2 separate regions of the Homo sapiens genome follow, and region 1 is linked to region 2. The links come from fine-mapping of genetic effects on gene expression. A gene starts in region 2. The other region holds a variant in brackets. All regions are shown on one strand. Distances are between the middles of the regions.

Region 1 (5,198 bases), 26 kb after region 2:
GGAGGCGGAGGTTGCAGTGAGCTGAGATCGTGCCATTGTACTCCAGCCTGGGCAACAAGAGTGAAACTCAATCCCAAGAAAAAAAGCTATGCTTAGTTTATGGTTTGATGGATCACTGTAAAAGCAGAATATAAATGTTTGAAGATTCCAAGCATTAAGGTACTTTTGGAATATGCTGTAGGTATGGCTCCCCCATTTTTTTTTTGAGACGGAGTCTTGCTCTGTCGCCCAGGCTGGAGTGTAGTGGTACAATCTCGGCTCACTGCAGTCTCTGCCTCCCGTGTTCAAGCGATTCTCCTGTCTCAGCCTCCTGAGTAGGCGGGATTACAGGTGCACACCACCACACCCATCTAATTTTTGTATTTTTAGTAGAGACGGGGTTTCACCATGTTGGCCAGGTTGGTCTCAAACTCCTGACCTCAGGTGATCCGCCTGCCTCGGCCTCACAAAGTACTGGGATTATAGGCGTGAGCCACTGGGCCCAGCCAGTGCCTCTTTTTATTTAAGGAACTGATGTTTGGGGACAAATTGTGTGTTCTCGCGCGTGTTTGCACATGTGCTGCAGCATTGTTAGACTCAGCTGTTCATGTTCATGGGTCTGAAGAGTCTCCAGATTATTTGTTGGACTTTTAAGATGCATTGTTTGCCTTTAATTTGTTTTAACTACCTTGTCTAGCACATTTGTTTTGTCTTACACTCAAACAAATTTGTACCTCTGGAATCTCTAGCAACCAGTAGTGTGGGGTAGGGATCAGAAATGTGCTGGAGAGGTGATAGGGATTGACAGGGTAGAAGTTACGAGATTGTAGTAGACTACCAGATTTTACTAGATTTTCTTTTGATCAGTTTGTGGATGGTTCCACCAGAGGGCAGTGAAGGAACAGACATGACGTAGAATTCAGACTCTTCGTTTTTCTCAAAAGCAGGACAGGGTTGCCTTTAGCTAAAGTTAAAGGTGGACAGCGTTTATGGTTAGATTTACTTGAGTCCTGGCTCCCTATGTGAGCACAGATAATGTTCTGTAAGAGTTTTTAGAGTCTCAGATTGTGGTCTGTGAAGGTGTGGTATGTATTAATTTTTAAACTGGAGGCTCTAGCACAACAGCTGATAAATCTTAATTTTCGCCTTGAATGGAAATTCTGTGTGTGTGTGTGTGTTTGTGTGTGTGTGTGTGTGTGTGTGTGTGTGTGTGTGTGTGTGTTTGTTTTTTTTTTTTTTAAAGAGACAGAGTCTCACTTCTTTGCCCAGGCTGGAGTACAGTAGCATGATCTCGGCACACTGCAACATCTGCCTGCTGTGTTCAAGTGATTCTGCTGCCTCAGCCTTCTGAGTAGCTGGGATTACAGGCACGCACCACCATGCCCGGCTAATTTTTGTAATTTTAGTAGAGACGGGGTTTCACCATGTTGGCCAGGCTGGTCTCGAACTCCCTACCTCAGTGATGCACCCAGTTAGAAGTGTGTGTGTGTGTATGTGTATGTATTTTTTTTTGTTTGGTTTTGTTTTGTTTTGAGACGGAGTCTTGCTCTGTCACCCAGGCTAGAGTGCAGTGGCGCGATCTCAGCTCCCTGCAGCCTTCTCCTGGGTTCAAGCAATTCTCTGCCTCAGCCTCCCAAGTAGCTGGGATTACAGGAGCCCGCCACCACGCCTGGCTAATTTTTTTTTTTTTTTTGTATTTTTAGTAGAAACAGGGTTTTAACCATCTTGGCCAGGCTGGTCTTGACCTCCTGACCTCGTGATCCACCTGCCTCGGCCTCCCAAAGTGCTGGGATTACAGGCATGAGCCACCTCCCCTGGCCGGAAATGTATATATTTTTAAATCTCTGACCATCATTTGCCATCACATAGTCCCCCAGCCACACTCTATAATGTTAAAAGTGCTTTATTTTCTTCCTAGTGCTTATCACTGTCTGAAATCACCTTGATTTCAGTTACTTGTTTATAGTCTGTCTCCCCCACCCACTTCAGGCTATATTTAGCCTAGCATAGTGAATGTCTGGCACATGGTAGGTATGCAGTAAGTATTAGAAGGAAGGAAGGAACGTTTTCTTGGAATACCAGTAACTGTTCAGGTATGTCGTGGATTTTTAAAATTTGTTTCACTTTTCATTTCTGAGAAAACAGAATCTGTCCAAACAAGTCTTTCCTGGCCTCCTTTCTTCAGCTTAGGTCCTGACTGTTGGCAAGAATGAAGATGAATCCTATTCTGAGTCTCTTTCCTCTCTTCCACCCTAGCTTGCCAGCAAAGCACGGACAGAGAAGGAGGAGAAGCTGAGCCAGGCCTATGCAATCAGTGCTGGTGTCTCTCTAGAGGGCCAGCAGCTCTTCCAGACCATTCACAAGACGTGAGTTGGGATCGGAGAGGTCCTTTGTCCTGGGGTAATGCTACCTGGTTGTGCTGTCTGGTGGCAGGCTTTTGGGTGGTTGTCTTCCTAAAAGTCTACTGGGGAAGCTGGGTAGGGTATTGGCAATATGCCAGCATCCAGAGGTGCAGGTGCTGTAGCCCCCTTTCCACACAGAAGAATAGTGTAATCACGGACAAGTTGTCTTCTCTGGTCTTTAGTTGCTTGTCTGTAAAACTTAGTTTTGGATTAGATTATCCCTAAGGATCCCTTCTAGACCTAGTAGTCCATAACTTAGAACTAGTGATTTCTTCTCTTTGATTTTGTTGTTTTGTGCCTTTCTTTAAAAGCTGATGCAGTTTTTATTAAGGGAAAGTTATATCTATATCACTTTTCCCATTGTAGATTGGGATGAACACAGGGAGTTAGAGCAGGCCACCTTCTTACCACCTCTTAAAAGACATTTTGGGGCCGGGCGCGGTGGCTCACGCCTGTAATCCCAGCACTTTGGGAGGCCGAGGCAGGTGGATCATGAGGTCAGGAGATCGAGACCATCCTGGCTAACAAGGTGAAACCCCGTCTCTACTAAAAATACAAAAAATTAGCCGGGCGCGGTGGCGGGCGCCTGTAGTCCCAGCTACTCGGGAGGCTGAGGCAGGAGAATGGC[G/A]TGAACCCGGGAGGCGGAGCTTGCAGTGAGCCGAGATTGCGCCACTGCAGTCCGCAGTCCGGCCTGGGCGACAGAGCGAGACTCCGTCTCAAAAAAAAAAAAAAAAAAAAAAAAAAAGACATTTTGTTGGTCGGGCACGGTGGCTCACGCCTGTAATCCCAGCACTTTGGGAGGCCGAGGTGGGCGGTTCACCTGAGGTCGGGAGTTCCAGACCAGCCTGACCAACATGTTGAAACCCCCATCTCTACTAAAAATACAAAATTAGCCAGGCGTGGTGGTGCATACCTGTAATCCCAGCCACTTAGGAGGCTGAGGCAGGAGATTCGCTTGAACCCTGGAGGTGGAGGTTGTGGTGAGCCAAGATTGTGCATTGCATTCCAGCCTGGGCAACAAGAGCAAAACTCCGTCTCAAAAAAAAACATTTTGTCACAGCAGAAGTCATTTGACTCTCCACTAGCTTCCCTAGCTGCTGAAAAACTGGAACATTTGACACCCCTCTCCACCCCGCCTCCCCCCACCCCACACTGCCATCTGTTACTCTGTTTAACCACCCTGGATCTGGTGCACAGATGGCAGCTGGCATCAGAGCTGTTTGAGGCTGTGGTGTGAGTATCTGAACATTTACAGGTATGTGAAGGAACTCCCAGTCGCATCAGCTGCCCTGGGGCTTCCCAAGTGTGAACTGGAATGGGTTTTCCCAGTCTGGCAAGTGCCCAACTGTCTGATAATTGAGAAGAGCCAGTCTGAAGAGCAGCTCCCATTATGGGTGATAAGGGTCAGAGTACAGATCATAGGAAGATGGGGAGTTTGTTCTCTCTCTCTTTTTTTTGAGTCGGAGTCTCACTCTGTCACCAGGCTGGAGTCCAATGGTGCAATCTTGGCTCACTGCAATCTCTGCCTCCCAGGTTCAAGCGATTCTCCTGCTTCACCCTCCTGAGTAACTGGGACTACAGGCGCGCAGTCCCACGCCCAGCTAATTTTTGTATTTTTAGTAGAGACAGTTTCATCATGTTGACCAGGATGGTCTCGATCTCCTGACCTCATGATCCGCCCACTTCGGCCTCCAAAGTGCTGGGATTACAGGCGTGAGCCACTGTGCCTGGCCTTTCTTTTTTTTTTTTTTTTTTGAGACAGGGTCTCACTTTTATTGCCTAGGTTGGGAGTGCAGTGGTGCGATTTTAGCTTACTATAGCCTCAATCTCCCCGGCTCTGGTGATTCTCCCACCTCAGCCCCCGGAGTAACTGGGACTACAGACGCATGCCACCACTACCGGCTAATTTTTTGTATGTATTTTTAGTAGAGACGAGTTTTTGCCCTGTTGCCCAGTCTGGTCTCGAACTCCTGGACTCAAGCAATCTACCCACCTCGGCCTCCCAAAGCGCGGGGATTACAGGTGTGAGCCACCGCGCCCGACCTGTTCTCCTGTCTTTCTAAAGGTGGTATTTCTCCCTAGGCCAATGGTTGACAAACTATGCCAGCAGGCCACATCTGCTCATCTGTTTTACCTATTGTCCATGCTACTTTTGTACAACTATGGCAGAACTCAGTGCTAGTTGTAACAGATGATATGGACTGCAAAGCCTAAAATGTTTGTTACAAGACCCTTAAGAGAAAAAGTTTGCCAGCCTCTGCCCTAGGCTGCTATCTTAATTTGGATTCTTGAGGCCACTATCACATTTTTATGGCTCTCCAGATCTCTGATGCTTCAGAGTAACAATTTCTGGGCTCTCCCAAGAATAAATGTGCATGAGTTTCATTGCTTTTCTAGCCAGTGGCACCCAAGGAATGTTTCTTGGCTACTATATGGGCTGCTGGCATCTAGTTGTTGGCTGAGTGGTGAGCTGGGAACTTGGGATCAGCCTTCTGGAGTTATTTATTCATCAGACAGGAGATGTGGGATGCCCCCAAGAGGTTACATTTCGCCTGCTGTCTTCTCCTTCCAGCATTAAAGACTGTAAATGGCAAGAAAAAAACATCGTAGTCATGGAAGAAGTTGTTATTACACCCCCATATCAAGTGGAAAACTGTAAAGGCAAAGAGGGGAGTGCACTGAGCCATGTACGCAAAATAGTAAGTAAAGGAGCCTTCAGACTTTAGGGGAGAGAGGATGGTTCCTCAGGCCTTCAGTCTTTAGCACCAGACCAGGACATTGTGCTACAGTCTCTGCCTCCTCTAGCAGCAGAGGCCC
Region 2 (5,198 bases):
CCTATACATTCCTTGAAATCACCAAGTTCTCTCCTCTTAGGGGTCCTGGCCCGTGCAGTTCCCTCTGCCTGGAACATGGCCACTCTTTTTCCTTGCCAATCCTTCAGGTCTCAGTAGAGATTTTTCACTTCCTCCAAGAAGGCCTTTCCTAATGGCTCCTAGAAGTCTTATATGAAAACCTATAATCACGATTCCATATAAAAAGTGGAAAACTGGAATGGCAATTATGTATGATTTATTATGGGGGCCAGAACAAGGATGAGAGGCATGAAAGTTCTCTGAGGCCGGCCACATGGCTCACGCCCGTAATCCCAGCACTTTGAGAGGCCAGCCGAGGCGGGAAGATTGCTTGAGCCCAGGAGTTTGAGACCAGCCTGGCCAACATGGTGAAACCCCATCTGTACTAAAAGTACAAAAATTAGCCGGGCATGGTGGCTCGTGCCTGTAATTCCAGCTACTCCGGAAGCTGAGGCAGGAGAATCGCTTGAACCTGGGAGGTGCGGGTTGCAGTGAGCCAAGATGGCGCCACTGCACTCCAGTCTGGGTGACAGAGCGAGGCTCTATCTCAAAAAAAAAAAAAAAAAAGTTCTCTGAAAAAGCACACTATGAAGGAGCAGAATTTTTATTCCTATTATAATGAGTGTATCAATACTTCCAACACCAGGAAGTTTATGTTTCTTGGAGGGCAAGGAAATACTTTTGAACTTTGTTCAGGTTAAGCCGCGCCAAGACTGGCCCTTTGCTTCCCTCTGGACTAGAGAAAGGTCAACCTGTTTCTTATACATGAAGCGAGGATCCAAAATTTCTATAGTGAGCGGTGGGTGGGTTAGCGACAGCCATTGGTGGTAGTAGGGCTTGAAAATGCACGCTCATAGTCCTTTGCATAAGATTAAGAAAACGACTGTTTTGTACATCAGACGGACATTCAAGGGCAGGGGCGCAAAACCCCTCCTCCAAGCCCCTTTTTGTCACTATCCGCTGCTCCTCATTCCTGCCTTTTGCCTGGCTTTCTGGGAGAGAGGGCAAAAAGGGAGAAGGGGAAGTGTCTTGACTTCTAAGAGTGATGGGTGACTAAGGGGGAACTACCATTTATTAAAGACCTAGTACATGCCATGCACTTATACCCGTTACCGCATTTAAACCTCCTAACTATGAGGTAGGTATTATTATGTAACAGAGTATAGCAGTAAATAGCACCGTCCTTGGAAATAGGCAGACTGTTTTTGCTAGTTGTGGAACCGTGGACAAGTTTAGTCTAAAACTTAGTTTATGTAAAAGGAGGACATTGATTCCTACCTCAAAGGGCTGTTAGATGCTCAAGAAGTGACAATACAAATGCCTATGAAGAAACAGGATCAGGTAATTTGCTTGCTCAAGGTCAGGTGATTTAGTAAGAGGCTGACCTCGGATTCTGGTTCCAGCTTATCTAACTCCACAGCCAATGTTCTTTCCACTATCACTCAGTAGTTATAATCATCTTTTTTTGTTTGTTTGTTTGTTTTGAGACAGAGTCTCGCTCTGTTGCCCAGGCTAGAGTGCAGTGGCACAATCTTGGCTCAGTGCAACCTCCGCCTTCCAGGTTCAAGAGATCCTCCAGCCTCAGTCCCCCTAGTAGCTGGGATTACAGGCACGCGCCACCGTACCCGGCTAATTTTTGTATTTTTAGTAGAGACGGGGTTTCACCATGTTGGCCAGGCTGGTCTCGAACCCCTGACCTCAGGTGATCCACCCGCCTCGGCCTCCCAAAGTGCTGGGATTACAGGCGTGAGCCACCGCTCCCAGCCTTATAATCATCTTGTCCAAGTATCGTTAAGTCCTCTGAGGCTCTGATTCCTCATATGCAAAATGGGGTTAACATATTTTATAAAATTCATTCATTAAACTCTTGTGTGGAAGGTGTGCATATAATGGAGACTGCAGCTCCCTCCTCTTTCCCCTTTTCATTCCACGTAGGTCATTTATCCTTAACTTCTAAAATGGACTCTACAAGCACTTAACCGAGCGGACGCAGCTATACAAATACTTTTCAGATTCCCCTTTATTTCCTCTTCTTTCCCACTCCACCTAGGATCCCGCCCCAACCAGCGCCAGGCCACGCCCCGGCGTGTGACGCAAGCACGCTCCGTGCGCGCCGTCGCGTCGCGGCGCTCACTGGGGGCCCGGCTTTCGCCCGCTGCTGCCGCCGCCGCCGCCGGCCGCGGCTGCACTCCCAAGATGGCGGCTCCTCCGGGCGAGTACTTCAGCGTTGGGAGCCAGGTGTCGTGCCGGACGTGCCAGGAGCAGCGGCTGCAGGGCGAGGTGGTAGCCTTTGACTACCAATCCAAAATGCTGGCTTTAAGTATCCTTCCCTGCGTGAAGCCCGAGTCCGGGCCGGCGTGTAGGTGCGGTGGTCGGGGGGTGGGGGACGACGGCGGCGGCTGGGGCTCTCTCCGGGCCTAGGGGCGACCGGCTACCGCGGCGCCCGGGGCGCATGCGCACGGCCCTGAGCTCCCCTCCCCCTCCCGCGGGCCCTTCGGTCAGCTTTGGGGATCCTGTCTCTCTCTCTTTGCGGGAGCTGGGGCTTTACCGAGGATCAGTGGGTGGAGGAGGGCTTGACACGGGGATGGCTTTTTGGGGGGAACGTTATGAGAGGGGACACAGTAATTAGGAGAGGGGGTGGTGGTGGGAGGGGGCTGATGGATTGGAGCCCGGATGGAAAGGAGGGGCGGGTGAAATATTATGGGGAGGGGTGTTTAGGGTAAGGAACTGCTGGTAGGGCAAAGGTATGGAATTTAGGAGGGCATGTGCACTGATGGGATTTCGTCCAAGGAAGGGCGGTGGGATGGTGACCAAATTGGTCCTTGCCTGTTTTGGGGGAGAGTAAGTTCAGGGCAGAGTTTGTATCTGAGCTAGGGATAGTGGCTTGTTTCGCTGATGCGTGTGTATGTGTGGTGGGGGGGCTGTGCTGATTTTTAGGCTTCTCGGTCATTTGGAAGTTGCTGTTTAGGGGATGTTTGCACTGGAAACCTGTTCCAGAGAGGGCTTGCCAGGGGCTTATGTGGTTTGGGGATGTGTGAGTTACAGGTGAAAGAGTGAAGTTCTCATGCTGCCTTGATCAGTCCAGCACATGGAGTCCTTTTACGTAGTAGCAGCCTCCCTTTTGAAAGTAGCAATGTTAAACTGATTGGAAAAGGTGGCCTGCTTCTTTGGGGTGGAAGTGACTTCTGAATTACTCCAGGAAACTCAGTCTTGGAAATGAAACACTTCCTTGTTGGGATAAATGTGCCACGGCTTCCCTTTTTATGTGAGCCACAGGTGGGTTTATTGGAATTTTTTTTTGGAGGAGTAATTTTTTATGGCATCTTTTTTTTTTTTTTTTTTTTAAGATGGAGTCTCGCTCTGTCGCTAGGATGGAGTGCGGTGGCGCAATCTCGGCTCACTGCAACCTCCGACTCCCTGGTTCGAGCGATTCTCCTGCCTCAGCCTCCGGAGTAGCTGGGATTACGGGCACGCGCCACCACGCCCAGCTAATTTTTGTATATGTTTTTTTTTAACAGAGATGGGGTATCACCATGTTGGCCAGGATGGTCTCGAACTTCTGACCTCGTGATCCGCTGGCTTCAGCCTCCCAAAGTGCTGGGATTACAGGCCTGAGCCACCGCCCGGCTTTTTTTTTTGTTGTGTTTTTTGAGACGGAGTTTCACTCTTATTGCCCAGGCTGGAGTGCAATGGCGTGATTTCGGCTTACTGCAACTTCCGTCTCCCGGATTCAAGCGATTCTTCTGCCTCAGCCTCCCGAGTAGCTGGGATTGCAGGCATACGCCACCGTGCCCGGCTAATTTTTTGTATTTTTAGTAGAGACGGGGTTTCACCGTGTTAGCCAAGATGGTCTCGATCTCCTGACCTCGTGATCCACCCGCCTCGGCCTCCCAGAGTGCTGGGATTACCAGCGTGAGCCACCGCGCGGCCTAAGAATAGTTGCTTTTTTAAAAAAATAAGAGGTTACACCTGGAAGAAATAAGACCTTTTACATTAGTGGTTTAGTTGGAAGGGTCTTGTAACTAGGAATTACTTTTTTTTTTTTTTTTTTGAGACGGAGTCTCGCTCTGTCACCTAGGCTGGAGTGCAGTGGCACCATCTCGGCTCACTGCAACCTCCGCCTCCCGTGTTCAAGTGATTCTCCTGCCTCAGGCTCCAGAGTAGCTGGGATTACAGGCATGTGCCACCACACCCGGCTAATTTTTTTTTTTTTGGTAGTGACGGGGTTTTGCCACTTTGGCCAGGCTGGTCTTGAACTCCTGACCTCAAGTAATCTGCCCGCCTCAGCCTCCCAAAGTGTTGAGATTACAGGCGTGAGCCATCACGTGAGCCTGGCTGAATTACTCAACTTTTACTTGACATACAGTAGGCTCTTAAATGGTTGGAGAATGAGTTTGTGAATGAATGAATGGATTAACTGGCTGGGTCACCTTGGGTGAATTTCCTTTCCAGTGTGTAGTTTTCTCCTCTGCAAAATGGGAAAGCTCACATCTGAAAGAGTAAAAAGAATACTGTGCAGACACAGAGAGTATTATACGAAGAACAGAAAGGTCTAGCTCTTTTGTCTGGCTCATAGGTTCAAGACAAACGCATTAAATCTGCATTATGCCTCTCCATAAAGCCAGTAGAGAGAAAGTGACAGAACTCCTTTGGAAGCTTCCAAGGATTTGGGCAGGAGGAAGGTGACAGGCAGAGATTTCCTGAGGAGAACCGTGATTCTTATAAGGCCCTCATGCTCCTGGCCTGCCTTTTACAAGCCTTGTGTGAATCGTGTTTTCTATGCCCCTTTTGGGATGTGTCAGTGCCTCTGCTTGTCCTATTTTTCCTTAACTTTTTTTTTTCTCACCAGAATGTCCCTCTTCCAGTGGAAAGCCCAACCATGCAGACATCTTGCTCATAAACTTACAGTATGTTTCAGAAGTGGAAATAATTAATGACCGAACAGAAACCCCTCCTCCCCTAGCTTCACTCAATGTTAGTAAGGTAAGGACTCAAGGGCAGATCTGGCTCTCTAAAATGGTGGGAAAGATGAGTCTCATTGAGTCTTAGTGATACATTGTTGTCTATTTTTTATTTTTTAAAATTGACTTAAAATTGTTTGTTCTGATATCTTTTTAAAAAATGTAGGTTTAGTTTTTCTCTTTATTCCTGGATGTTATCAGTAGATCTTAAGAAGTAGC

Alleles and levels. Alleles are on the strand shown, and positions count from the first base shown. SD is a standard deviation of normalised expression in the study named.
With allele A in place of G in region 1, the expression in skeletal muscle of the gene that starts at base 2,131 in region 2 is higher (moderate effect, 0.43 SD a copy in GTEx).

What was found.
Region 1: its variant is fine-mapped to the expression of LSM12 in skeletal muscle (GTEx, PIP 0.96).

What each region holds. Positions count from the first base shown.
Region 1 is chr17:44,037,294-44,042,491 of GRCh38, reverse strand. It overlaps LSM12 (LSM12 homolog), which reads left to right. Exons shown (of 5, transcript NM_001371445.1): 3 at 2,236-2,345; 4 at 4,954-5,080. Among named protein-coding and RNA genes, the nearest start is that of TMEM101, 25 kb to the right of the region's middle. The variant G/A (reference allele first, on the strand shown) is at 3,010.
Region 2 is chr17:44,063,604-44,068,801 of GRCh38, reverse strand. It overlaps LSM12 (LSM12 homolog), which reads left to right and starts at 2,131. Exons shown (of 5, transcript NM_001371445.1): 1 at 2,131-2,338; 2 at 4,868-5,001. The coding sequence starts at 2,215. RefSeq lists silencers at 2,049-2,168, 2,459-2,598.